2 separate regions of the Homo sapiens genome follow, and region 1 is linked to region 2. The links come from fine-mapping of genetic effects on gene expression. Tissue or cell type: blood mononuclear cells. Region 2 holds a variant in brackets; the other region holds the start of a gene. All regions are shown on one strand. Distances are between the middles of the regions. Region 1 holds the start of TMEM106B (transmembrane protein 106B). Region 2 has its middle 20 kb from the start of TMEM106B.

Region 1 (9,362 bases), 21 kb before region 2:
AACCAGACTGCTAAAACAGTACTCCCCTACCCCCTGAGCCTGGTGCATTAATCCCTTCAACTACAATAATTATTTTATTCTTAAATAGCTACTATCCTTGTGAAAATAAAACCATCATACTCAAAGGCCAACGCAAATGTAAACTTCAATTCAAACCCACAGCATTTTAAGATACATTTTAAGCATCTTAAAAAGGTACACAAAGTATACTTTATACTTTGACCTTCTTCCCTCTGGGTATCTCCAGGGTCACACATCAACTTTCACCAAGAAGATAATGAGAACAGCATAAAGTATCTTTATTATTTCTACTTATTGCCACTGTTCCTAAAGTAGCTTACAAGCAGCACACAGGGGATTATTTCCTTCTGACGTCCCCTATGATATATCACAAACAATTTTTTTTTTTCAATTTGGCTCATTTTCACGTACCATCCCTCTTCACAGAGTTTCTTTAACTCATTAGGGCACAGCCAGCTTATTCTTCTTCTTTAGATAATGAATTAAAAATATTAGGTTGGCCAGGCGTGGTGGCTCACAGCTGTAATTCTAACACTTTGGGAGGCCAAGGCTGGATGATCGCTTGAGCCCAAGAATTCGACATCATCCTGGGAAACATGGGGAAACTCCATCCTTATTATTAAAAAAATAAAATTTTAAAAATAACATGAAAGAATAAGCTTCCTTACACATTAACTCTGGCTGGGCATGGTGGCTTACTGCTATAATCCTAGCACTCTGGGAAGCCGAGGTGGGAGGATTGCTTGAGGACAGGAGTTCAAGACCAGCCTGGCCAACAATTGCGAGATCTCATCTCTTAAAAAAAAAAAAAAAATAGGTCAACAAATTACTTAAATTGCTTCTAACATCTGATATAGCAAAGTAGCAAGTAACTATGATGTCATCTCTACAGATGCCAAATAGGACTAAAAGTTTTCATTTACAAGACAGTGAATATCTGCTATAATAGCAGGTGGGAATGAAAAAATACTGGAGGTAGTGAGGTGGTTTTCTTTACTGCTTTAGGAACCTTAATTAATACTTTATTTGTTTCTTTTGCATCTTTTTGACTGAAGGTAACTGATATGATGTTTCAACTTTAATTCTAAGAGTCCTCTAAAACAGGTGGTTCCTGAGACCCACAGTTTTTATAATACTTGAGCAAATACCTAAAATCATTTAAAGGGAAAACAATACAATAACACATACCCCTAGGAATTCTTCCTGTTCCCTGACAAGTAGGGCAGGTGACACTATCTCTTCCTGTAAATTCCACATATGGAAACTGAGAGACATCTCCATTTCTTCCATCTTCATTATGGACTTCACTATTAACCAGTCCATTCCTCATGTTTTCAGATGTGACTCCATCATAAGCATCTTCTTTGCTTGAATGCAAAGGCAAATGAGAAAGAGACTTTCCCATGTCTAAAGAAAAATAAAAATCTTACAGTAAACTTCAGGGAAAAAAGTACATTCAAGAACACTCTGAGATATTTACACTAATTAATTTAGAACAGTCAAGGAACAGTCAAACTCTGTAAAATATTTGAAGGGATTTATTCGGAGCCAAAAATGAGTGAACAAGGCCTGAGGCACAGTCTCAACAGGTCCTGAGAAAATGTCCTCAAGGTAGTTGGGTTACAGCTTGATTATACATTTTGGAGACAGAAATTACAGGCAGAGGCATAAATCAATAGATGTAAGGTATACATTAATTCAGCCCAGAAAAGCAGGACATTTTGAAGCAGGGGTGGAAGGCTGGGGGGTGTCCAGGTCATAGGTGCATAGGTGGATTTAAAGATTTCCTAATGGCAATTGGTTGAAACGGTTAAACTCTACCTGAGGAGTTGAAGTCAGCAGAAAGAAATGTTTGTAGTTAAGACAAGGGAGGAGGATGTGGAAGCCAAGGTTCTGATTATCTAGATGATGCCTCCAGGTAGCAGGCTTCAGAGAGAATAGTTTGTAAATGTCTCTTATTACTCCTTAAAATATTCCAGGCTCTTGGTTAAATCGCTGCTGAATTAGGAAAAGATCTGGAAAGGAAAGGGGATTCTGTACAGAATGTGGATCTTCCCCACGAGAGACAGCTTTGCAAGGCCATTTCAAAGAAATATATTTTGGGGTAAGATATTTCAATTTCTCTCAGGGCCTGCTATCTGTCGAGTGATTCTATATTAGAGTCAGGTTGGGATTTGATATCTTATTGCTACAAAGAGACTCTTGTTAGTCTTCAAATCTCTGTTTTAATTGATGCTGGTCAGTTGTGCCTGAATTCCAAAGAGAGGAAGGTACAACGGGGCATGTTCAATCCCCTCCACCCACCTTTTCATCATGGCCTGAACTACCTTTTTAGGTTTACTTTGGAATGCCCTTGACAGAGAAGCGGGTTCCACTTAGTTGGGGGGCTCAGAATTTTATTTTTGGTTTACAGAACAAACATTAAGAGAATGTTCAAACTACCTTTTGGATTATACCTTTTGGATTAGGATTATATCCAATCAAAATAATGTCTGAAACAAAGGAGCCATTTACTAGAGTCCAGAAGTGTTTTTTTAAACAAATAATGTGAAATGATGTCCTATCATGCTTATGATGAGAATGGGCTTTCAAACATTAACATTTGACAAAAGTCTACACCTGCAGGTTCTCTGAAAAGAAACATGCAGGTTTCATTTTTCTTAAAATAAAATAAAAATACATTCTACCTTTTAACTAGTTAGCACTAAAGGCAAAAATTGCTTTGGGTAGACGATAACTAGGTATTTGATGTATATCACCAAGTAACTTCAAAGTAGTACGTTTCAGCCTCTGAAAATTCACGCACCTTTGTGATAAATACAATCACCACTCTTTTCCATCCTTAAATTTCTTGCTTTAAACATTTAAACACTCGCAACAACAATAAAAAGCCCCAAAATTCCAAAATCACAGTTTTTTTTTCATTCAACAGTTGACAGTTAAAATTATGAAGCCAATGTTCCAAAATATTAAATATAAGTTACCAATACAAAGCAGCAAAATTTAGAACACTAACTTCAAAAATTTTAGGATAAGAGTATCAAAATAACAATACAAATGTAAAAATCTAAGTAGAAATAAATAATTAGTACTAGTGCCTACACAAAAATAACTTCTGCAGGTAGATAATGAAGTAACTTTATACTTAAGGTCATACCCTTTTAAAGCTGAAAAGAACTTAACAGTCATATAATACACCCTGCTGGTATTTTCCTGCTTATATCCTGAGAAAAAATAAAGTGAAAAAGTAAAACTGAAAAATAACATAATTATACTCCTTCTAAATTTGATATGTCTTTTAGCGGTTCCTAAAAATAGATTACATACATTCAGACAGATAGTATTTCTTTCAAAAATTCTCACTTATTTGATTAAACAAAACAGACATTCCAAGTAAGTCAGTTCATCCTAGAGTATGAAGAAAATTTTACTTTCTAGAACTGGCATGCCTGATAGGAGCCTGCTTGGTGGGTACAATGTGTGTTGCTCCAGTGCTGGATGCACTAAGGGCTCTGACTTCACCAGGATGTTGTGTATCAATGTAGCAAATGGCACTTGTACTCCATGAATATACACAAAATAAATACAAAGATAAAAAAATAAATAAAATTCGCATGCCATCCACTTGTTGCTGTCACTCAAATAAACAGAATTTAAAAAACTATACAAATGGTATGCAAACAAATGTAAAATGAGATTTTCACTCTTTCAAAAAAAAAAAACTATGTATTTATAAAAATCACTGCCCACATCAAAAATACAAATGATTTATGACTTCTAAAAAATCATTGTCTTAATCAACACCTGTCAGCCACAGGTAGGATAGGGAAGACTTAACATCACTGTCCCCACACACTGTAACCTTGGGGTCTATGCGGAACACTAGATGAATTGGGATCATTGGGCCTTATCAGCAAGGCCTTAAGGGCACTCTTTCTGGGATCTCAGTCAACACAGCCAGGCTGTAAGCTGCATCTTAACTGGAGCGCGTTGAGAAAAAAGACACAGAAAGGCAGACTCAAGTGGCTCTCCGTTTGAGCCTGTTTTCTGTCCTAATCTAATAGCTGCCATGATCGATTCTGCTTTAGGGTAGGTGTTTGGACAAGTGCCAGACTCTGTGAGAAACTGGGAATCCCTTGCCTTCTCTACTAGATTTTCCTTAGAGAACTGACAAGTGTAACCACTTTTATTCTTGGGAGACTCAATGGTTTAAAAAAGGGGTGCTAGACCCTCTTCTGCAACCTCTGTGGGCTCAGTGTTATTTATTATAGCGGTTCCTTAGTTTACTGAAAGTCAACATGGATATCAGACTCAGTTTGGAGAGAAAAAATATATCACAGCACTCCAATTTAAATGGCTCCTGATCTTCTGTGTAGACACTGGTTTTAGTTCTAAAAGGGCTTGAGAACTAAGGAAACAAGCGCCTTTGAAAAGCTCCATAAACAACACCTAGCACAAAGCCTACTCTGTAAAGCTGCAAAATAAGATCCCGGCACCACGGCAAGAACATTCATCAACAGCAAAAGGAAGAGGGCCACCTGGCGCTCAAGGTGTGAGGGCCTAGAGGCAACCCAGAGGTAGGGCTTGGGCCGAAGCCGAGTGTTCCCTGGCTGGGCCTCATTAGAGGCGACACAGCAACTCGATCACCAGCCCTGACCGCCGCCGTACCTGCGGCTGGCCCAGCACCCCAGCGGCCTCCCCTCCTTGTCAGGCCCGGCTCAAGCCGCGGCGCAGCCGCTCAGCCTCGCTCCGGAAGGGGACCTGGGGACTGCACGTCCGGGGTCGCTCACCGGCACGCGGGGCGCTGCGCAGTCCCGGGCTGCTTCGGCGCGGACAGGGCCGAGGACAGGGTCGTGGAGTCCACAGTCCCGGGAGCCGGGGGGTGGAGCGACCGGCCTGGAGCGCGCGGCCGCCGTAGAGCTGGGACGGGGGAGGGGTAGGATAACGACGGCATCAGCAGAGGCCAAGCGCTGCTGTAACCTGCGTCCGCGCCTGCGCAGAGCGCTCCCGGAGGGACACCCCTGGCGTGCGCGTGACGCATGCGTCCTTCTTCCTCCTGTTTGAGCCCAGAGGCGTCGATCGTGTGAGATTGTGCGCTCTTCAGGTTTCATTACCTTCGCGTCCCCCAGACTTCAAAGTGTCCACTGTAGCCACGAATTACCTAGGAACAGTCGCTCCTCCTATTTCCCATATCAGACCATTTCCTTTTGCAAAGGGTATAAATGTGCACCATCTGCCTCAGCTTTCAGCTGAGCAGCCTCCTCGCTCACGCAATGCGAGTTGTCGCTGACAGTCTGGTCCTTAGGAATGGAATAAACTGGTCCGTACACACGCCGCTGACAGCAGCAAAGCTACCTCTATTTTAATTTAGAAACTGGCCAACTAGAAGGAGACAGCAAGCGGCAAGGCCGTAGTTTTTGTTTTTGCTCGGTTTCGTTTCGCTTTGCCCACGCTGCCCCTCCCCACCCCTTAACTCTGGTGCTAGTTACAGGTGTGTGAAATCCCGTCTCGGATCCCAGTACTTAAGCTCTTCGCTGTGGGTTGGGGCTGCCCTCCCCCAACGTCTAGGTCATTTCACTTAGAAGATAAGAACAACGACAAGGAGTCGTTTTGAGGGATCAATGAGATGCCGGTAATAATATTAAGGGCACTCTAGTCTCATTCCTGCGGAGAGTTTAACGTTTAATGAATGGTAGGCATTCTTACAGTCACAGGAGCAAGGAAGTGAGAGTCATATATTTCTCTCTTCTAACAGGATCAGTGTGATCCTGTTAGAATCAGGGAATTCTAACAGGAATTGGGAAATGAAGCTATGTAAAAGTAGGAAATACAAGTCAGAACGATATACAATTTAAGAGGATTACTGTAGATCCATATGTGAGATAATGAGCTTTCTCATACAATGTTGTCGGAGATTTAAAACTCCTAAGTTTTCTGGCAGACAGTCAGTATGTATCAAGACTATTAAAATGTTCACATCGTTTGGTCCAGCAATTCCACCCTTTCAGAAGTATCCTAAACCTAATGAGAACTCTAAAAAGATTTGGGTATGAGGTGTATCCATTTAAATAAACTGAATGTCCAACAAGGGACATTGATAAAATCATTATTTTTCAACCGCTTTTATTTAGCCCATATTTTCCAAAGGGAAGGGTCAGGGTGTCTTCCATTAACACTGTTTGAAATTTCAAAATTAATAGGTTGGTTAAAACAAATCAGAATCATGGGGGAAAATTTTTCTCAAAATTATTGACAGTCCACCTGTGGAGATATGATGTTCCCCTTGGAATTACTGAGTTTTTAAAATTATGGAATAGCCATCTATTGAGTTTTTATAAAGCCAGTAAAAACCATCTTATAAGGCTGTTATACGCGGAGTGATATAAAATTAAAATCAGGATGCAAAGTATAGGATATGAGGTATTGTAATAGGATGTAAACTATATTCACATATAGATAACATATAGATATAAATATATTACATATCTGCCTTGAAATGGAAAGAAATATACAAAATATAAACAGTTGCCTGTAGTTTGAGAGCATGGATGTTTTTTCTTTATTATTGTTAAATAGGCAAATGGTTCTATAATGTAATATATATTATTCTTAAGTGAAAAAGTTACTTTTTTCTTTAATTCTTAAGGGAGTATTTAGTATTTTCTCAACCTCATCATTTAACTTAAAACGTGCTGGCCATATAGCACAGTTCCTTATCCAAATTCCTGGAATTCACATAGGAATAAGTCTTCCTGGGAGAATGTTGCTGTAAGAAGCAGTTCAGTAGCAGGGTTGGGAACACAGCCTTGGGAGCCATATGGCCTGAAAATGAGCCCAGCCTGACAGAGATATACAAAATCTCTGTAAGAGTGGGCAAAATACTTAGCCTTCTTTATACCTAATTTTTATTATCTGCAAAATGAAGATAGTAATAATGTCTGTCTCAAAGGGTTATGGATGGGAGCTGATACCTGCAGAGCAATCAGTAAATATTAGATATTATGATTACAAATTTATCATCCATATAACAAGGAAGTACTTTAAAGACAGATATTGAATGTTTGGTACATTTGTTCCTATGCCTTATTTTTCATTGAAGCACATTTTGAAAGGAAAATTTTCTGAAAAGCTTCCAATTATTTGATTAACAGTGATTTCTTGAGTTCCGAGTTCAGTAGTGGTCTAGGTGCTATCAGATATAAAGGCCAGTAATTTTAACAGTCTGGGATAAGTTTGAATAGAAGAACATTCTTTCTTAATGATTTCTGGTTATATTTAGTATGATGCTGAAGCTAAGGGATTTCTCTAGGTTGTACTAAATCTTGAAAACAGCCTTATCTCTCATTTCAATTCTCTTTTATCTCTTTTAATGGTAAATCACCCAAATCCTAATAGCAGTCAGCCATAACTAAAAATTTTGCAAAAATTACTTTTCTAGAAATTAGCTGTTAAAAATTATAAGCAGAAAAGGAACATAATTATTTTGAAACATATAATTTGTCAAATGTTAATATATAAGTCTCTCTCAGCTCACCCCCTTCCACTGATATGCTGGTCAGATTATGTTAGAAACCTGGATAGGTTACATTGGAAACCAGGGATTGAAAAGATTGAAGTTTGTCTGGCTGATTTTCAGAGATAGTGCCCCAGATACATAGCAAAACTACCATTAGCAAAACTACCATTTCCCGCTGTGCCACCTGACTTACATTCACAGGCAGTAAACTCCTGACTCTATTGACACATCTTTGTCATTCCAATTATTTTAAAAGCAGAGGTCTTTATTAATTTCTGCAAATAACTTACCTATCTGAAACTCTTGGTTATGTCTCTGTACTCCTTCTTAGGCAGGATCTTCTATATTTCCTCTGTCTCATTCATCTTGCTTCACACCTGCATGGAGCTAATCTTTCCCATGTGTTAAAACTTTCTTTCCCAAATATTCAAGTCATCTTTTGTAGGGTTTTTGTCATAATCATAATTTCTAGTAAGAATAATTTTAGGAGTTCAATAACACTTGGCCAATGAATGAATTTGTTGTGCCAGGCATTGTGTAAAGTAGTTTATATCATCTAATTTTTATAGAAATGCTATGGATTAGGTTCTGTTATTATCCCATATCTTATTTCAAACAGTGGAAATAGAGGATCCTAGGTATTATGACTTGCACATGACCACACAGCTAGCAACTAGAACTCGGATATTTTGACTGCAAAGCTACAGCTATTAACCACTGTGGCATGAATATCTGTATTAAATTTGGAAGAGTGAATTCTGTCCTCAACTTTTACTACACAAAGATAAGTGATGACGGTGAGTAAAGTTAACTGGTTAGGGGGGGAAAAGAGGGTATTTTCACTCTTTTGCTAAGTGATCATCACTGCTGCTGAAAAGAGGAGAATTGGGTCCAGAAATCCTTGAGGAGGTGTTCCGAATATAAAATAAGGAAAACACAGAGTCCAATTAGGATTTATGTTATAAAAGACTGTTTCTTCACAACAAACACAAGCTAGAGAAGGTTTTTTTTTTTTTAAACATTTTTAAAAAACTTATCAAAGAAATGAGGACGCAAATTTAAGTACACTTAAATCCAAAAGATAAGGAGAGCTTCCTAAGAGAGAATAGAATTAGAGTTGCTTTAATCACCTACAAAACAGTGGGAGAAGGAGGAATGCACCATAAACAGGGCCGAAGGGAGACCTGCCGAATGACACCCCTGTGTGTGGACCAGGATGATAGATTACAATCTCATGTCGTTCCAGTGATAGAACGAGTGTGCACTCACTCTCCAATTCTCTCCTAAAGGTCTTCATTAAGTGCTCAAATGTCATATGTTAAAGGCATGGGGTAGGGCATGAATGCTGAAGAAATTTCTTTGCAGATTCTAGGCCTTTAACCAGTGTACTGCAGCAGCTCTGTGAAGGCTGGAGGCAGGGTGGCAGGCTGCCCAGGATTCTCCTGAGGCACAGAAATGACCGGCAAGACTGGAGAGTAAACAGAACAACCTGTGGAGATATTGGAAGCTAGGTGTTTGAGCTAAGAAAGTATTGAATAGTTTGGTGGAATGAGCTAGTAGGTGCACATTAATCTTGAGATTTTGCCAGTGCCAAGAACTCAAGCATATTTGAAAGCAATAGTAAATAAACTGAATCAAAACTTCAACAAAACCCAGAATGTGGGTTTTTGACTCACTGTTGAAAGATTTGATTCAGCCTTCCAAACAATAATCTTGATAGAAAAAATGGCAAGATGTTTTTTGAGGTACATGTTATTTACTGTTTTCTTTTATACAATATCTAGCATATAATAAAGATTATGAGACATGAAGGAGCAAGAAAATG
Region 2 (9,362 bases):
ACAGGTGCCCACCACCATGACTGGCTAATTTTTGTATTTTTGGTAGAGATGGAGTTTCACCATATTGACCAGGCTGATCTCCAGCTCCAAAGTCAGAATATTTTTATGTTCTAGATATTATTCATATTGTAATACGGTTATTAAATGGTCTATTTAAAAAATATGTTGGTCAATAAATTATAATTGTAAGTAAATCATAAAACTTGGATTAAGGTACCATGTTTATATGAAATGTCACACAGAAAAAGAATTGCTTTCTAAGTTGTCACAGAACACATTAGTTTATGGGTGTTGTTACTGTAAGTTTACTTCAGAATATTTTGAAGTTTCTTACAATGACATGTTTACACATTGGTACAGAATATTCTGAAGTTTCTTACAATAATTTGCTTACACATGGGTACATACCTTGGTTATTACTATTATTAATTAGGGGATTTTTAAAAGAATCTATTTTTACCTCTTAGATACAGAAGAGTTTAAAAACAAAAACAAACACAAAAAGAATGGTTATATTCATGCTTATGCCTTCTCATATAAAGAAGAAACAGTATGACTGGAAAGCACAAGGCTGAAAATTCAGATGAGTCTGAATCCAAATTTGTGGATGTATGAATATTTGTACGCGTATGTGTATGCAGGTAATCCGTTTTCCCCTTTATAAGGTTGATGCCGCACTTTAAGGATTGCATGCCGATTAGGGGGATGTTATGATAAATTTTTAGTCTCTAACATAAATATACTATTTTACTTACACTAAGTGGCTAACATAGAAATATATTATGATGTGTGACTTTAGATTTAAACAAGATAAAATACAAAGATGATATCTTATGCTATCAATCAAAGCTATCATTGAGCAAAGGATGATGAGTGATCTATGAGCTTCTCCTCATCAGTCTGGAATGACTCTAGGAGGCCAGTTTGTTTTAATGTCTTTGAAATGACCTTATTTTAGCATATTTTTAAATATAAATATTTTAGCATATTTTATTTAACATGAATATTTTAGCATAATTTACTGAATATGAATATTCATGTTGAATTAAGTAGTATTTATTATCTAATCCTTTATTTTTCTCTTTTATTCATTTTTTAATTCTCAGTTGAAACTTAATTTTTATCATGTTAATGAAAATTTGTCTTATAAATAGTAATTCAGTATGACTTACTAATGACCACACAAATCAGATCAGTATTGGATCTAATACTGGATCAGTATACTGAAGCAATGCATCATAGAAACCTGGTCAGGAATGTCAATGTCAAAGCATTCCTAGAAGAAAGGATAGTTTATAGATTGCTTCTTTCTGAAAAGATAAATAAGAATCCAGAGACATAGTTTATAAATTTTATCTGTGTGTAATGGTGAGTAAAGCAGTTTTTTCTGTTTTTTTTTTTTTTTTTACCATGTTTGTGTAATCTTCTTTCAGACTTTTTGTTTATGAAAAAAAGACTTATAACCAGAAATATATAATAACCAACAGTTTGAAGTATTCCTAAGACTATTTTTCAACTTTGTTTTTAAAATTACAAAATAAAATAAAATTTAAATTAAAAAATATGGAAGTAGCTAATTAAATTAGTATTAAGGGAGGATACAGAACTGTAAATGCACGGAATAGGCTAAGACTGCAAGAAAATGTTCCAAAATATGAGGGCAGTATGTTGACTTGTCTCTTCTACTTTTTCTTTATATATGTTGGAACATTGTCTTTATAATGAATTCAACACAGTGAGCACTCTAGGAATATAAAAGTTAAGCCTTGAAAACTACTATAATGCAATAATACTGACAATACCTTATAAATTGATCATTACAGAATTTGGAAATTTCACAATAAATGTTATGTGGTTCTAAATAATGAATTACATTGTAGGCTATAACTCTAGTAATATCCTATTTATCTTGTACATTATTGTAACTTTGAAATCGAATGCACTTCCTTATCTTCTAAGCCATACTGCCTGAAATACAAGGATTATTATTTTAGATAGCTAGAAGTCCTGGTATATTTAATGTTCTAGATGCTGGATGGAAATATTCAAATACAAGAGTCATTGATGACCTCAGGATGTCTTTCAGAGAAAGAAATTTAAGATGGAATTTTAATAAAGTATTTTTCCACTTTCTGTTTTTGATTGTCTCAAGGTGTCAACAGCAGCAACTAAAATGTGATAGTACTGGACTAAACAAGAAGGCACTGAATCATTCTCTCAACCATAATTACCGGCTAATTCTGCCCTCTAGAGAAATGCTTCAAATTTAGTTTTAAATTAAAAAAAAAAGTTGTCAATGGTGTTTAAATTTTAAAAATGTCTTTAACCTTTGTCTTAGTCCATTTGTGTTGCTATAAAGAATACCTGAGGCTGGGTATATAAAGAAAAAAAAGGTTTATTTTGCTCATAATTCCACTGGCTGAAAGATTGGGCATCTGATGAAAGCTTCAGGCTGCTTCCACTCATGGCAGAAGACTAAGGGGAGCCAGATGTGCAGAAATTCTCTCTTCATATGGTGAGAGAGAAAGCAAGAGAGAAGGGAGCAAGGTGCCAGGTTATTTTTAATGACCAGTTCTCACCGCAGTTCACTTCCATCCCTGCGACTTGCCTCAGGGAGGGCACTAATCTATTCATGAGGGATCCACCTCTGTGGCTTCAAAGCCTCCCATTAAGCCCCATCTCCAACAGTGGACATCAAATTTCACCATGAGATTTGAGAGAACAAACATCCAAACTATAGCACTCTGTTCTTGGGCTCCTAGAAATAATGTCCTCCTCACATTGCAAGATATAATAATTCCTTTTCAATCCCCCAAAGTCTTAACTTGTTCTAGCAAAAGTCCAAAGTCCAAAGTTTCATCTGAGACAAGTCTCTTCCAGCTATGTTCACGTAAAATAAAAAAAAAAGTTATTTACTTCCAAGATACCAAGGTTGTACAGGCATTGGGTAAAAGATTCCTATTCCAAAAAGCATAAATCAGCCCAGAGAAAAGGGTAACAGGCCTCACACAAGTCTAAAACCCAGGAAGGATGACATTAAATTTTAAAGCTCCAAAATAATCCTTAACTTCATGTCCTGCATTCTGTGGACTAGTTCAAGGACTGGGTTTCAAGACCTCAGGCAGCAGTGCCCCAATAGCTTTGCCGGGTGTACTCCATGTGGCTGCTTTCATGAGTGGGAAGAAACATCAATGGCTTTTTCAGGCTGAAGGAGTGATATGGTTTGGCAATGTCCCCAAGCAAATCTCACCTTGAATTCCTATGTGTTGTGGGAGGGACCCAGTGAGAGGTAATTGAATCATGGGGACAGATGTCTTTCCCATACTCTTCTCATGATAGTGAGTAAGTCTCACAAGATCTGATGGTTTTATAAAGGAGAGTTTCCCTGCACGAACCCTCTTTTCTTGTCTGCCACTATGTGAGACATGCCTTTCAAATTCCACCATGATTGTGGGGCCTCCCCAGCCACATGGATCTGTAAATCCATTAAACCTCTTTCTTTTGTAAATTGCCCAGTCTTTGTATGTCTTTATCAGCAGTATGAAAATGGACTTATACAGTAAATTGGTACCAATAGAGTGAGGCACTGCTGAAAAGATACCTGAAAATGTGGAAGTGACTTTGGAAATGGGTAACAAGAAGGGGTTGGAACAGTTTGGAGGGCTCAGAAGAAGACAGGAAAATGTGGGAAAGTTTGGAACTCCAGAGAGACTTGTTGAATGGCTTTGACCAAAATGCTGATAATGATATGGACAATGAAATCCAGGCTGAGGTGGTCTCAGATGGAGCAGAGGAACTTGTTGGGAACTGGAGCAAAGGTGACTCTTGTTATGTTTTAGCAAAGAGACTGGTGGCATTTTTCCCCTGTCCTAGAGATTTATGGAACTTTGAACTTGAGAGAGATGATTTAGGGTATCTGGTAGAAGAAATTTCTAAGCTGCAAAGCATTCAAGAGGTGACTTGGGTGCTGTTAAAGACATTCAGTTTTAAAAGGGAAACAGAATATAAAAGTTTGGAAAATTTGCAGCCTGACAATGTGATAGAAAATAAAATCCCATTTTCTGAGGAAAAATTCAAGCCTGCTGAAGAAATTTGCATAAGTAACAAGGAGCCGAATGTTAATCACTAAAACAATGGGGAAAATGTCTTCAGGGCATGTCAGAGATCTTTGCAGCAGTCCCTCTCATCACAGGCCCAGAGATTTAGGAGGAAAAAAAATGGTTTTTTGGGCCAGACCCAGGATCCTTGTGCTGTGTGCAGCCTAGGGGCTTAGTAGCATGTCCCAGCCACTCCAGCCATGACCAAAAGGAACCAAGGTACAGCTTGGGCCGTTGTTTCAGAGGGTGCAAGCCCCAAGCCTTGGCAGCTTCCACATGGTGTTCAGCCTGTGGGTGCACAGAAGTCAAGAATTTAGATTTGGGAACCTCTGCCTAGGTTTCAGAGGATGTATGGAAACACTTGGATGCCCAGGCAGAAGTTTGCTGCAGGGGCAGGGCCCCCATGGAGAACCTCTGCTGTGGCTGTGCAGAAGGGAAATGTGGGATCAGAGCCCCAACAAAGAGTCCCTACTGGGGCACTGCCTAGTGGAGCTGTGAGAAGAGGGCCACTGTCCTCCAGACCTCAGAATCGTAGATCCACCAACAGCTTGCACTGTGCACCTGGAAAAGCCAGAAGCTCAATGACAGCTCATGAAAGC[A/G]GGCAAGTGATGTGGCTATACCCTGCAAAGCCACGGCCACGGGAGCCCACTTTTTGCATCAGCATGACCTGGATGTGAGACACAGAATCAAAGGAGATCATTTTGGAGATTTAAGATTTGACTGCCCTGCTGGATTTTGGACTTGCATGGGGCCTATAGCCCCTTTCTTTTGGCCAATTTCTCCCATTTGAAATAGCTGTATTTACCCAATGCCTGTATCCCCAGTGTATCTAGGAAGTAACTAACTTGCTTTTGATTTTACAGGCTCATAGGTGGAAGGCACTTGCCTTGTCTTGGATGAGACTTTGGACTGTGGACTTTTGAGTTAATGCTGAAATGAGCTAAGAATTTGGGGGACTGTTGGGAAGGCATGATTGGTTTTGAAATGTGAGGACATGAGATTTGTAAGGGGCTATGGAAGAATGATATGGTTTGGCTGTGTCCCCACCCAAATCTCATCTTAAATTTCCACGTGCTGTGGGAGGGACCTGGTGAGGTAATTGAATCATAGGGGCAGCTCTTTCCTGTGCTGGTGATAGTAAATAAGTCTCATGAGATCTGATGGTTTTATAAAGGGTAGTTTCCCTGCACAAGATCGCTTCTCTTGTCTGCTGCCATGTGAGACATGCCTTTCACCTTCTGCCAGGATTGTGAGGCCTCCCCAGCCACACGGAACTAAATAAGCTCTCTTTTGTAAATTGCCCAGTCTCTGGTCTGTCTTTATCAGCAGTGTGAAAATGGAGTAATACAAGGTGCATGCTACCAATGGCTCTATAATTCTGTAGTCTGAGAGTAGTGCCTTTGTTTTTACAGCTGTACTAGGCACTGCCCAAGTACAGGCTCTCTCAGTGGCTCTACCTCATGACAGACTTCTGCCCGGGCACCCAGGCTTTCCAATATATCCTCTGAGATCTAGGTGGAATTTGCCAAGCCTCCATGGCACTTGCATTCTGAGTACCTACAGACTTAGCACCACATGAATGCCACCAAGGTTTATGGCTTGCAACTTCCAGAGCAGCAGCCCAGGTAGTACCTAGGGCTCTTTGAACCATGGTGAGAGTTAGGGTGGTCAAAACCTAAGGAGTAGCATCCCAAGGTGGTGCAGTGTAGCCGTGACCCAGGCCTGTCCCCTGAAACCATCCTGTTATTTTAGGTCTCTGAGCCAGTGATGGGAGGGATGGACTCAAAGATTTTGAAATGCCTTTGGGGTCTTTTTCCCATTGTTCTATTAACATTTGATTCCCTTTTATCTGTACTAATCTCTCTAGTAAGTGGTTGTTCTGCAACAGCCTGGGATTCCTATCCTAAGAATGCTCTTTTCTTCTCCATCAAATGACCAACCTGCAAAATTTTATGCTCTGCTTCCCTTTTAGTTATAAATTCCAACTTTAAGTCATTTGTTTGCTTCCATATCTGATTGTAAGCTCTTAAAAGTAGGCATGCCAATTCTTGAGTGCTTTGCAGCTTAGAGATTTCTTCCGCTAGATACCCTATGTCATTGCTCTTAAATTTGGCCTTCCCAAAAGACCTGGAGCATGGAAACAATGCAGCCAAGTTCTTTGCTATGGCCTCATCAGCCTGGGCTACACTGTCCATATTTCTATTAGCATTTTGGTCACAACCATTTAACCAGTCTCTAAGAACTTCCAACTTTTCCTCATCTTCCTGTCTTCTTCTGAGCCCTCCAAACTCATCCAACCTATGTCCATTACCCAGTTTCAAAGCTCCCTTCAAATATTCAGATATCTTTAACAACCCCCCAACTCCTAGATATCGATTTTTGGTTTAGTTCATTTAGCATTGCTATAAAGGAATATCCAAGACTGGGTAAATTGTAAAGAAAAAAGGGTTTATTTGGCTGATAGTTTTGCAGGCTGGACAAGAAGCATGGCACCAGCATCTGTTCCTGGTGAGAGTCTCAGGCTTCTTCTACTCATGGTGGAAGGCAAAGTGGAGCTGTCATGTGTGGAGATCACGTGGCAAGAGAGGAAGCAAGAAACCGAGGAGGAGGGACTAGGCTCTTTTAACAACCAGCTTTTGCTGGAACTAATAGAACAAGAACTCACTGATTATCACAAGGACAGCACCATGCCATTCATGAGGGAGGAATCTGCCTCATGAGCCAGATTCTCCCAATTAGACTCCACCTCCAATGTTGGTGATCAGATTTCAACATGAGGTTTGGGGGGAGATCCAAACTATAGCAACCTTACACTGAAGATTTTGAATATTTAAAGTTCTGTACTGTTAGTGTCTTTCCCTAGACAATATTTCTCAAATCATCTGATTACATTTCATTTGGTTTAAACATTTTGTAAATTTTATAAGTTAACAAACTGAATATGAGATTAGTGGTGTTTTCATCATTTTTTTCTCTCAGTTCAGTATCAATATCCTAAATCACCATAGATAATTGACCTTTATGACCTCCAAAATGTATCAATTTTACAGTTAGTTCAGAATTAAAATTAATTATAGACATTAACATTCTTAACAAATTTATGCCAGATTGCTCCCTAGGTTTTTGGCTACAGCAGTATCAGGTGTCAGTTGTCACAAGTTATTCATTAGTATCACAATATGGTTGTTAAGTCATGAGATGGTAACAAGGCCCTGCCATTGTCAAATTTCAAAGAAAAATAAAGGATCTCTTCTTTTACAAATTCATTGTTAATCTCTATAAATTATAACCAGAATTATGCATGAATCATACTTAACTATTCAGTGTAGAGTGAAATGTCTTAATTTATTAATCTCTCATCCATTAGCTCACTGATTATAATATTAAGTTAAAGTGTAATTTTACATGTCACACGTACATTGGTTATTTCAACCTCATAATGCTATATGTAAGTTTTTCAAAGTGAAAGAGCCATTTGGATGTTAATACTTTCTGTGATTTTCCTAATTTTTTTTCAAATAATTTGCTTACAACACAAGTAAAGAGGCTTGTCTATCTTTAAAAAAGCCAGCATTCTTCTTTACATTTTCTTTTTATTTATTTCGTATTTAAGCCCCTTAGTGTTTTTGATGATACATGTAGGCTGAACCATATAAAGCTACAATTTCTGCAGTATCTTACATTTGGCTCAAATTAATATAAAAGAAATTATAGTGGAAAATGGATAAATGTTTATGATAAAGTATTTGAATTTGAACATCCAGTGCATAATTCTATATGTCAATTTTTTTTGGAAAAATGATAAATTGGAATTACTAGACAAACCTTAGATTTAGCTTCATCAATGTAAACATTATATTTAGCTTCTTCAAGATTCTCCAATTAATTCATATGAGGTTAATCATGTTGTAGACTTTATTTACTGTGAAATAACATTTATCTTACAAAGAAGATGTAATATTTTGACCTGAAAACATAGGAAACATATTTCTTCTTGATTAATTATTTTCTCTCTAAAGCTTGATGAATATCCAGTCATTCAAATGACTGAATTGTGGATTCTCTGTAAACTCCAGTTATTATACAAGTAGCCCACCTTGATAGGATGATCCTATAAAGCCTTCTTATTGCTTATAAACAGTCAAGCTGTAAAATTGGTAGGCTTTTATATAAACAAATAATGTATAAGAATAAACTGTAATTATGTTCTATGTTAATACAAAATAATAAATAACTAGATACCTATTGATTTATTCTTTGCTTATGTTCTGTTTTTAACTAGATGGACCCTTACACAGTGATGGTGCAAACAAATGGAAGTCTGTATTAATTCACATCAGGTCAGATTAGGATTCAGCAAATTTTTTATTTATACTTTATCCTGGATAATAACTTCATCTCTTTTTTAAGGTGCTAGAACTATTAGTGTATAAAACCATTTGGTATTTGGTGACATATTCAATAATAAGACAGATAAGAGAAAGCAACACAAAGCATTTTAAAATTTAAAAAGCAGGAATTTTTAGTTTTTAAAATAATACTATTCAGAGTTAGGCTGAATGTCTATAGTGAATCTTTATAACACATTATTTAAATAACAATATGAAAACGGAATGAACATTGTAGCGCTAGGTAAGTAAGTTTCTGAAGTATTTTTCAAAATGGGCTTCAGAGATGCTGGGTAAGTTATGTTTTAGTGGGATTAAAGGAAAAGAAGATATAAAATTAGTCCACTAGGTTAATTTTATCATCTAGACTAGAGATCTGTGGCAATTTTATTCTATCATATAAAAATTTTCTTCCATTTTTCATTTGGCTCCTCCCTCCTTCCTTTGCCTTTTATTTTGTCCCTTCGTCTTTTCCACTCTCTTTCCTTCCTTTGTTATTTCTTTCCTTTCCTTTCCCCCTTACTGGAATTAACACAAAGGGAAAAAAGGGCTTGAATAAGAGAAATGAGAAATCTTTTTAATACTGCAAAGACTTTCAAAGACAAAATGACAAGCTTATAGATAGGGAAAGGTGTTAATTTCTTCACTCACGTATTATGTATTATTTTCTCCCTATTAATGTTATTTGTGAGATGACAATGGTCTATCTTACATATCCTTAGTGTTACTCTGCCTATCAATTTCGCTGTAAGGCTCTTTATCCAATTTCACAGATGATAACTTTTAGTTTGTAAACCATTGGTTATCAATTAAAAGAAATCATCCAGAACTAACTGTTTGGCTACTATAATTAATCTTTATATAGTCTAATCCCTAT

The links. PIP is the estimated chance that this variant, and not a neighbour inherited with it, causes the effect.
Region 1: TMEM106B starts here. The variant in region 2 is fine-mapped to the expression of TMEM106B in blood mononuclear cells (TOPMed, PIP 0.97).

The regions. Positions count from the first base shown.
Region 1 is chr7:12,206,875-12,216,236 of GRCh38, reverse strand. It overlaps TMEM106B (transmembrane protein 106B), which reads right to left and starts at 4,943. Exons shown (of 8, transcript NM_001134232.2): 1 at 4,812-4,943; 2 at 1,210-1,428. The coding sequence starts at 1,426. RefSeq lists enhancers at 4,226-4,742, 5,135-5,184, 4,743-5,261, 5,395-5,544 and a silencer at 4,645-4,954.
Region 2 is chr7:12,186,268-12,195,629 of GRCh38, reverse strand. No RefSeq gene overlaps it. Among named protein-coding and RNA genes, the nearest start is that of TMEM106B, 20 kb to the left of the region's middle. The variant A/G (reference allele first, on the strand shown) is at 4,697.